Linked DNA regions of Homo sapiens. The protein of the gene in region 1 interacts with the protein of each later gene in a biochemical or structural test. Each region holds a gene or a part of one and is shown on either strand. Other genes may lie near its edges. The genes, in order: LYZ and LTF.

What was found.
Region 2: the proteins of LYZ (region 1) and LTF form a complex in vitro, tested with the Homo sapiens proteins (one study listed by BioGRID).

Annotation. Positions count from the first base shown.
Region 1 is NC_000012.12:69,351,372-69,355,028, forward strand, and holds the end of LYZ (lysozyme C precursor), read left to right. Parts: intron 1-848; coding exon 849-927; intron 928-1,781; coding exon 1,782-1,848; 3' UTR 1,849-2,863; downstream 2,864-3,657. UniProt on the Homo sapiens protein: Lysozymes have primarily a bacteriolytic function; those in tissues and body fluids are associated with the monocyte-macrophage system and enhance the activity of immunoagents.
Region 2 is NC_000003.12:46,440,658-46,447,960, forward strand, and holds part of LTF (lactotransferrin isoform 1 preproprotein), read right to left. Parts: intron 6,742-7,303; coding exon 6,651-6,741; intron 5,837-6,650; coding exon 5,783-5,836; intron 4,780-5,782; coding exon 4,624-4,779; intron 2,926-4,623; coding exon 2,784-2,925; intron 827-2,783; coding exon 759-826; intron 1-758. UniProt on the Homo sapiens protein: Transferrins are iron binding transport proteins which can bind two Fe(3+) ions in association with the binding of an anion, usually bicarbonate. Lactoferricin binds to the bacterial surface and is crucial for the bactericidal functions.

The DNA.
Region 1 (3,657 bases):
TTAAAAAAATTTATATTATATAATAATATTTGGTCATTAAATAAAAATTAGAAAATACAAATAAGAAAAATAACACCCATAATCTTACTACCCAGAGGTTTATAACCATGGGTAAATTCTGGTATATATTCTTCCAGAATGTATATCAATCATGTGTATGAATGTTAAATTATATCATACACATATAAACCCACATACAAACATGTAAATACTGTGTGCTTTTGCAAAAATTAAATTGTATTATACACACGGCTTTACAATTTGCTTCTTATCACACAAAATTATTTGCATGTCAGCAAATACAAATCGGTTTTTAATGATCTTTTGCTCCATTTTCCAGATGAGAAAAAAATACAAATCTGTATCATCATTTTAAAAGAATGACTAGAATTTTAATATATGAATATTCTATAATTTACTGATCCAATTGTTACTATTGAGCACTTAGGTTGTTTCCATTTTTCCCTCATAAATTGCTATGAATAGCTTTTTGTATACATCTTTGGGTGCATTTCTTATTTCTTTTGGATAAATTTTCAATAATAGAACTGCTGAGTAAAATATCACTAGGTGTTTTTTTACAGTGTCTAGTGCAAAGAAGACCTTTAATCATTTTGTTAATACTTCCAGAGCTTCCAATGACTTTGGTAAATGAAGAAAAAAATGCTTCATTTCATGCTGAATGGGAGAGAATGAAGAGAGTTTTCCCCAACAATTACACATATATGGACTCATAGAAAATAATATCTTACCATTCTTTCCACAGCCTAACAGAAAAAAGCTGGCTAAACCTAAATTTAAAATAAAATATCTATTAAAGTTTTTATTCCTTACCACCTGTCTTTCAGCTTTGCTGCAAGATAACATCGCTGATGCTGTAGCTTGTGCAAAGAGGGTTGTCCGTGATCCACAAGGCATTAGAGCATGGTATGTTTTAAGTGTTAAAAGGGAAAACTATCTTACTCTACTGTTGATATATACAATGAGAGCAGACTTTTAAAGACCAAAGTATGCTAATGACACCTCAAAATTGCAGCTTTTGGCTTATGCTAAATGATGTATTACCTACATCCTTGAAGAAACAATCTACTTTAACTGATCCAGAATCTTACTCTTTTACTCCTCAATTTATTTTAGGGGATTTCTAGAGTTTTAAGATGCTTCACACTCTATCAGTTCCTTGTCATATCTTGAAATTCTTTTTAGAATAAGTAAGTGTGGGCCGGGCACAGTGGCTCACGCCTGTAATCCCAGCACTTTGGGAGACCGAGGCAGATGGATCACCTGAGGTCAGGAGTTCGAGACCAGCCTGCCTAACATGGCAAAACCCCATCTCCACTAAAAATACAAAAAATTAGCTGGGTGTGGTGGCAGGTGCCTGTAATCCCAGCCACTCGGGAGGCTGAGGCAGGAGACTTGCTTGAACCCGGGAGGTGGAGGTTGCAGAGGATTGCGCCATTGTACTTCAGCCTGGGCGACAGAGTGAGACTCTGTCTCAAATAAATACATAAAAAATAAATGTGGAATTCACTTTGCAGTTGCTGCTGTACAACGCACATTACTCAATCTTTATGTTCGGCATTCTATGCTCTACTGAGAAATTTGGGTAGGAGTGAAGTATTTTGTATACATATCTTCATTTAATAAATAGCAATAGCTGGGTCTATCTTACTATTTTATCTATTGATAAAATATTTTGTTTCCCCAAGGAGTGCGAAGTATGTATATTACAATGAAGATATGTTTTAACCTTTCACCATTTGCTTCATCTTTTTCTACAGGGTGGCATGGAGAAATCGTTGTCAAAACAGAGATGTCCGTCAGTATGTTCAAGGTTGTGGAGTGTAACTCCAGAATTTTCCTTCTTCAGCTCATTTTGTCTCTCTCACATTAAGGGAGTAGGAATTAAGTGAAAGGTCACACTACCATTATTTCCCCTTCAAACAAATAATATTTTTACAGAAGCAGGAGCAAAATATGGCCTTTCTTCTAAGAGATATAATGTTCACTAATGTGGTTATTTTACATTAAGCCTACAACATTTTTCAGTTTGCAAATAGAACTAATACTGGTGAAAATTTACCTAAAACCTTGGTTATCAAATACATCTCCAGTACATTCCGTTCTTTTTTTTTTTGAGACAGTCTCGCTCTGTCGCCCAGGCTGGAGTGCAGTGGCGCAATCTCGGCTCACTGCAACCTCCACCTCCCGGGTTCACGCCATTCTCCTGCCTCAGCCTCCCGAGTAGCTGGGATTACGGGCGCCCGCCACCACGCCCGGCTAATTTTTTGTATTTTTAGTAGAGACAGGGTTTCACCGTGTTAGCCAGGATGGTCTCGATCTCCTGACCTTGTGATCCACCCACCTCGGCCTCCCAAAGTGCTGGGATTACAGGCGTGAGCCACTGCGCCCGGCCACATTCAGTTCTTATCAAAGAAATAACCCAGACTTAATCTTGAATGATACGATTATGCCCAATATTAAGTAAAAAATATAAGAAAAGGTTATCTTAAATAGATCTTAGGCAAAATACCAGCTGATGAAGGCATCTGATGCCTTCATCTGTTCAGTCATCTCCAAAAACAGTAAAAATAACCACTTTTTGTTGGGCAATATGAAATTTTTAAAGGAGTAGAATACCAAATGATAGAAACAGACTGCCTGAATTGAGAATTTTGATTTCTTAAAGTGTGTTTCTTTCTAAATTGCTGTTCCTTAATTTGATTAATTTAATTCATGTATTATGATTAAATCTGAGGCAGATGAGCTTACAAGTATTGAAATAATTACTAATTAATCACAAATGTGAAGTTATGCATGATGTAAAAAATACAAACATTCTAATTAAAGGCTTTGCAACACATGCCTTGTCTGTTTTTATTTAGACTCCTATAGTGTCTCTGAAGAAAAGAATACAGATATTTGAAAAAATATGATTTGGTGCTCTTAATATCTCTTATATCGTCACTTACCTCACTTAAATAGTCAGATATTGCTGGAGAAAAATTCACAAGCATGCTGACAGGTCTCACTTTAAATTCATAACCATAAATCTCAAATGAGCCCTCAAGTCTGCCTGACCATTTTAGTTACTTCTCTACAATCCTTCCATTTTTATGTCCCTAGTCTCCAAAATGACTGTTACTATTTTACTTTTCCTCTTCTCTCTTCAAAGCCTCAAGACACACATTCAGCCTCCTCCTCTGCCCCCTTATCCTCCACCCTCCTCTGCTCTCAGCAGATAACCTGGCCTCATATTACACTTCTAAAACAAAAGCAACTTCATACCAAGCTTTCCCTTCTACATCCCAAAGCAGCAGTCATACCTTCCCACAGGCCCATCCTTCCTTCCTTCCCTCCTATTATCAGGATGAAGAGCCTCTGCTCCTGCCAACAGCACTGACTCCACATGCAGTTTCCCTCCCATCCCTCTCACTACTCCAAGTCAGGCTGTTTCCTGCATCCCTAGTTTGTCCCTTTTAGCTGGATCACCTCCATCATTCTACAGTCTGCCCTAGTAACCTTCCATCTTACAACAAATACTCCACTGACCCTACATAATCCTCCAACTGCAACTCCATTCTCTGCTCCCTTTACAGCAAGACTTCTGGGGAAGTATGTCTGTACTTACCAACTCCATGACCTCACCTCCCAGTG
Region 2 (7,303 bases), on another chromosome or scaffold:
AAGAGACACTAGAAGGAGCAGAAGCAGAAGGGAGAAGTGGCTGAGACTGCAGTGATTACTGAAGGAGGGAGGCCGAAAGTGGAGACAGTTCTTTCTCAGGAAACAGAATAGCAAGTCACCTGCTGAGACTTGGGGGTTGGAATGCTGAAGTGGGGCTAAGGAGACAGATGCAGATTGGAAGGTAGCAAATGGCTGAGGACCAGGAGAGAGAGTGATTGTTCAAACATTGGCTGGAAGATTATCTTCCATCATCTGCAACCACCTGTAATTTTGTTCCCACTAACTCCCAAGGAGTCTCCAGACCAAGGCTCACATGGGGATGAATGAAGGCCTCTACTTCCTTTTTCATAAAGGGAGGCTTCATTTGCATATGTTCACCCAGTTTGTAGCATCATCCACAGTTTCCAATAGGCATGCATGATCTCATGTGGGCAGACAGTGTGTTTCTGTGGTTGACTAGAGGAAGCCAGGGAGACATTTGCTACTGAGCATGGCTAGTATCTGTGTGTGTGAGAGTGAGTGTGTGTGTGTGTGTGAGAGAAAGAGAGAGAGTGTGTGTGTATGAATTTCGTTTCAAAATCCATATGACACCTACAGATGTTATCATGTTGTCTATTGAGATAAAGAATTTTGGAGTTCTTTTAATCACAAATATGGAAAATGTTATAAAACCTTCCCAAAGGCAAATCTGAACACTAAGATGTGTTGTGATGCCAAAGACTCTGCTTTGAAGGAGAAAAGGAAACACCTTCACCTACCATCAGTGTTCTGCAAGACAGTGACATCTTTCACAAATGCAACGTCTCCAGCATTCTCAGCCAGGCACCTAAAATGTTCCAGAAAATATACACATAATTACAGAAGAGAAACTAGTGGGGCTTTCATAAATATTTGTAATATGCATTCCAAAAACTGAAATATGGAAGTAAACATCTAAAAGACAACTATTTCTAGGAATTTACTGTTTACAGCGGCAGATTGAACACAGGTGTACCTGCCCTCCTTTTAAAACCCTATATAAAAGACATTACAAAACCAAGAAATCTAAAGATATGCGACCCAGGAAACAGGCAATCTAACATGAAGTAAGACAAAGGAAAGCACCAAAATAATGGTCAACAGGACCCCCAGGACCACAGATGTGCAGGCGGCCTACACAGCAACCAGTCCAAACTGCAGCAGGAAGATGGATGCCTTCTGGAGCAGCACTTCCAAGTAAATGATGAAACTGTGATAGCACCCAGAGAGAGAGAGAGAGAGAGAGAGAGAGAGAGAGAGTGTGTGTGTGTGTGTGTGTGTGTGTGTGTGTGTGTGTGTGTGTGTGTGTGTGTATGCATGTTGTTAGGAGATTTACATTACTGGCAGACAGTTTGGGGATGAGATAGTGATGTGTTTTTTTAAGTGCAGAAAATTAAGCAAATAAGAAAAGACATTTATGAACTCCAGAGTAAACAAAAAGTTTGTACAATAAGGGAAATATAATATGAGAATAACGCTTACACAGTCATAAGTACTGAATATGACATTAGCGTGTTGGGTGCTGAAGAGAGTTGAAGTCTGTGGTTGTGTGGTGGAAAAGGTGCTGGGGGCAGTGTGAGAGGCTAGATCTTCTTCTATACTACAGAGTCAGCAGAAAGTTAAAAATTAAGAACCAGCATTATAAGGATGATAGAAATAAAGGGGTATGACACTGGTTTCAGCTTTTAATGATTTTGCTATAAATTTCCCCAATCTAGATTCTAGATATAATTTAAACAAAAGACAAGGGATTTTCTTCCAGTATAATTAGGAATATTAAAATGTGGGTGTTTCCAGTGAACTAATACCTTGCTGCAGGTCTGAAAAAAAAAAAAAGAGGAGCACATGCTTCTTTCGGGCTCTTATGAGACATGTGTTCAGCATTTCTGAGTAGAATCACATTTCCATTTGCAAATCCTTAGTCCCTTAAAGATATTTTTATACATTCACAAAACATTTTTTTTTGTTTTGGGTCTTTTTTTATGAGCCACTTATATAGCAAAAGCTACTTTTCTGTCATTCCATTACTGGAACAAGGCTGTTGAATTTATATTAAAAAGTTCAGACACCCTCAGACACATGACGCCATCTGGTCGTGAAATGTACTCTTGGCAAATGGAGGAAAAGGAACAGGGGAAGATCCTCTCTGCACCCTTCACACTGGTAAATAGTGCCCCTGAGAAGCAACACCCGGATGAATGGTGCTGTAAAACGTGGGGTGTGGTTACAAGTCACTAAGTGGTTATAACTTATGAATTCTGAAAACTTGTTTTTTGGCTTATTTTTCACTTCGTTACTGGAGAATAACACTGCAATTCTGCCATCTCTTTGCCATTTCTAAGGCCAAAGTCAGAGAAAAAGGGAAACCTAAGCCATAGTCATGACCTAGGTGAGAAGAAAAGGGGCGGCGATGGGAAAGAGAATTCTTCCCCATAAATGGAATTGTAGGAAGCACTTAGGATACCACACTCTACCCATTTGATTTTCAGGACGAGGCTATTGAGGCCTACTGCTGTTGATCTTGGCTCAAAGCCACAGGGAGAAGCACTGCGGAGCTGAGGTCAGACAGCCCTGGTGCCAGCCTCCACTCTCTGGGGCGGTGGGTGTGGTGGGGACAGCCCTCACTGGGGCCACCCATGAGCTGACCCACAGGATGACCCCCACTCTGCTGTGACAGGTCACATCTGGCTCCTTAGAACTGCAATGCTGACATGCTGAGGGATGAGGTAAGTCCCCATCCTGATGGAGCTCAGTCACAGACTCACCGGAAAGCCCCAGTGTAGCCGTAGTATCTCTCGTTGCTGTTGGGCACGCACTTATTCTCACCCTGCTCGTCGCCAATACACAGAGCACAGAGATTAGATCTCGGGTCAGACCCAGGGGCACAGCTTTGACTGAAATATTCATCTGGAGAGAAGGAACACGGGGAGTCAGCTCTTCAAACCTGAGTCCACACAAGCAACCTTTACCTAACAGCCGATGCAGGGTGGTTTCAGTTCATTAGACTTCCCAGGACAGCAATCTAGATAGAACACACTCACCATCACAAAGCAACATGTTGTCACCAACATAGGACCCACCAGAAAAGCTTCATTCAGACTGTAGGCACAGATGGACACCCAACTAAGGCTGGGGATGAGAGCTGTGGCTGCCTGGAGGGTCCCGTCATCACAGCCTTGAGCTGGGGACTCAGCTCATGACCGTGATGGCTGTGTGCAGCAGAGCCTGTGAGTTGCCTAGTCCAGGATCTGATTTTGTTTTTATCAGTAATGGAAACCCTGCTTTGTATCTGGGTGCTTGGCCCTTTGGTATAAAGACTAGACTTATCAGACTCCCTGGGGCTCATATGGCCATATGGGTAGCTATAGGCCAGTGAAATATCAGCAGGAGTGTTGGGCGCCAGCTTCTCAGAAACATCCTTGAAAGACAATTGGTACATGCCTTTTGCCCTTTCTTCTCCTTCTCTTTCTTCATCCTGCACATAGAATGCAGAAGCAGGGACTGGACTTAGAGATGCAATGTGGGCCATGAGGTGACCTTGAGCATGAAAGCCACACAAATGGCAGAGTAGCCAAATGATTAAAGCCCAGGTTCCAGACCCCATATTGTCTTCATACCAGCCCTAGGCAAACCACCTCTGGACTACATGACACAGAAATTAACTTCTGTCTTGTTTAAGCCTCTACTATTTCAGGAGTTTTCTGTTCCTTGCAGCTGAACCTGATCTGAATTCGTTCATTGTGTGATTTAACCCAAGAAAGAATAAACAAAGGTGACAAGAAAGCTCTGCCCCACTGAGCAAACGTCACCCATTATCAGACTCCCACTGCTGCTGGAAGAGCCACACTATGTGTCAACCTCAGGAAAAGCTGGGAGTTCCCATTCCATCCTGGCAGTTTCCCTACAGCTCAGAGGCTGCCATGGAGCTGGTGAGGAGCAGAGCCACGTGAAAGCTGCCTGCCCCGGCCAGGATCAAAAACCCATGCAGTGGAGCCCCTGCCCTAGGAGACGCCCATACAAGAAGGGAGTCACATTGAGGATGTGCTACACACCATGCCACGGGGCCCACAGCAGGCAGGGTGTGGCTGATGCTGACTAGGATGAGTGTGGGGTGTGGTGGGGAGAGAAAACTGCAGAAGCAGGTGGAGCCAGGCTCTTGAGGTCTTATTCAGGCTCCGTTGCAGTGTAGAGTAAGCGTCAGTTTTGCTTAGTAACAGGAGTCACCTTTCATGAGGCAGGCAGACATCTTTCCCCAAGCTGGGAAGCCAGAGTTTAAGAGGAATTTAGGTCTGGAGCTCCAAGAGGTAAAAAGCATTTGCACATCTTGGAACTTGCATTTATTCTTAGGGTGCAGCGAAATAGGCAGATATTCCAATCTTTAATCTTGGGGTGGGGTGAATGGGGCATGGGAAGTGCTGTGCAGGGAAACCCCCAGTGCACCCACGCCTCCAGGGGGCAGCCACAGGGAGAATTTCCTTATGCTGGAAGAGGCCTGCAGGCCACTATCAGCCTGCAAATCCCCTCCCCTCCCTTCCCTAAGGTTCCACAGCACAATATGCCTACCCTCCAGGGTGGCCCACCCACCGCACCTTTGGAACTCCTTACCAAATTTGCAGGAGCCCGTCTGGTTGAAGAGCAGGCCCATGGGGATATTCCAGCCTGCAGTCCTGTCCACGGCGGTGTGGCAGGACTTCTTGCCTTTCACAGAGTTCCAGGTAAGGCTAGTGTCTGATCTCCTAACCACCGCCACAGCAAGATATCCTGGCATAACAGATGACAGAAAAACAAGTCTTAACCTCCAGGAGGCCTGGCACATGGATTCCAGTGGAGCTGTCTACAGCCCAGGCCAAAACAGGCCAAGAAGCAACACCAGGCAATGATTCCCTCAAAGAACTGGCCTTTTTAGGTAGACCGAGAAAGCATAAGCTGCTGCCTTATGTTAAGGTGAGATTGATGAAATAAAACAGTAAGAAAAGCTGATTATTTTAGTGATTACAGGGGACTGTCTTCAACCAGCCACACAATGTCCCTGAGTTACAAACCAGCAATGCATCTCTCAGTGTAAGCTTCTACAGCAACAAACACTATAAACAACAAGAGAGACCCCAACAGTGCATAAATCACCAACCACAGTGTGCATCAGGCAAGAGCACCAACATCCAGCCAGCTAACGGCTGTGTGGGTACAGGGGCACATGTCCCCAGGGACTGCCCTGAGCTGAGTCTGAACCCACCCTGCACTGGTTGAACTCAACATGGTTGCCGTTGTCCTCCTGAGAGAATGCATCTGACAGACACCCACCAAGGGCAAGTCTTTTCTGAAACTGAGCAAGCACCAGCTCTGGTGGGCAGGAGGAGTGGTGCACAGAGCACTGGGACACGAGTCCCAGGTCACGAGGACCCGGGGTCAAGACCAGGATCTACCACAGTATTACCTATGGCTGTGAGTGAGATCCTGGGCACTTGGGGACTCTCGGTGCCACTGTTTCCTCATCCCCATGAGGTGGGGAAGTAGCACCCCCCATTCCATGACCATGACAAAATGAGGGACTATATGGATGTTCTTTGCCAAGTGTGAAGGTCAATATAAACATTAATTAGAACTATTCCTCTGTGAATTATTTGCACCCTTAAAATTATTGCTCCTAGAAGCCCTATAGCTTCTAGGGCTGCAATTCTTTCTGTTTTTTTTACAGTTCCTGCCACTTCCTCTTCCAGCAACAAGAACTTATCCTTGACCCTGAAAGTGGCTAATGCCAACTCACCTTCCACAGGTCTATCCACACAGTTAGGATCAGGGTCACTGCTTTGTTGGGATTCTGAAAGAATAAAGACAAGCCAGACATCATTATCCATTCAGATGTAGTGAGAAGCCACAAACTCTTAAATCTCAATGATGCAGAATCAAATCCAAAGAGACCGTCCCAGCAGTTCCATGCAGGAGAAATGCGTCTATATGTTCAACAAAAGACATGGCACAGAGATTCACAGCTGCATTATTCACCACAGCCACCAACTGGAAACTACTCAAATGCCCATCCACACTCAAATGATGAATAATCACAGTAGACTCACACAGCGACGAGACTGAACAGTCTACAACTACACACTTAGGTGGATGAAAAGCATAACGATGAGCAAGAGAAACCAGACATAAAAAAACACATGCTGTGTAATTCCTTTAACATGAAGTTTAAAACATAGGCAAACTTAGATCTGCGACCTTAGAAGCCAGGAGAGAGGCTTCCCTTGCAGGAGTAAGGGGGCGGGGGACAGGAGGACATAAGGGGCTTCTGAAACTTGCAGTGTTTGTTCTGGGCCCGAGAGCATGGACTGTACAGTGTGTGAAGTGCCATGAGTTGTACATTTATGTGCACTTTTCTGTTTGTATGTTATAATTCACTGAGATCTTCTGGAAAATTAAGAAGATAAAACCAACCTGTCCCTTGTTAATTCTCAACACAATAGGCTTTGTGGGTAACACGGCCCCTTTCATTTCTTCTTTCCCTGATTCTCCCTTTTGAATGTATCTGTTCATCATAATGTTTCACCTGCATTCACCGAATGGGATTACTCATAGCCCCACTCCCATGACCCAGAGGGAATATACCAGAGGATGCTAACTCCACTTACTGTAGTTCTCTGCCAGGACAGGCACCAAACCACATTTGCCTGCAGTGTACACATATCCTCCATCCAAACTCATGGCATCAGCTTCTCCTTTCTGCAAAGACAGAGCAGATCTCCAGCACCACAGTGAGGCTGCATCCCGTCCTGCCTGTCTATATAGCTCTCTGAGAGAATGGTTTTCTGTCAGGTGACCAGTGAAACAGCAGAAAGAGATGGACTATTCAAACTGAGCAGCCAGAGGAAACACCGTGTGCACCACTAATTCTCTCCCAGCCCTGCCTACTTTCTGGGCTGTCAATTCAACTGGAAAGACCAGGCACAGGTTGCACTAATCCTCTGTCCTCTGAGCAAAACCTTTTCTGTGTCCCTGGCACTTTGGGGACACCTTCCTGGAGCAGTCTCACTGACTGAGGACACAGATGGGAACAGCTGGCCTCATCTAATCTGAACTCATTAGCACTCCACTCCAAGCGCTACACAGAAGTTGTCCAACACATAAGCTGAAGTCGTCATATTGGCCCACCACCAGAATGAACAAGTCCAGGCTACAACACAGGATCATGGACTCATCAGTAGTATGAAACTTCCTCTTTGACCCAGTAATATTTTTACAACTATATTAAAAATAGAGAAGTGGACAAAGATTTCTACTCAAG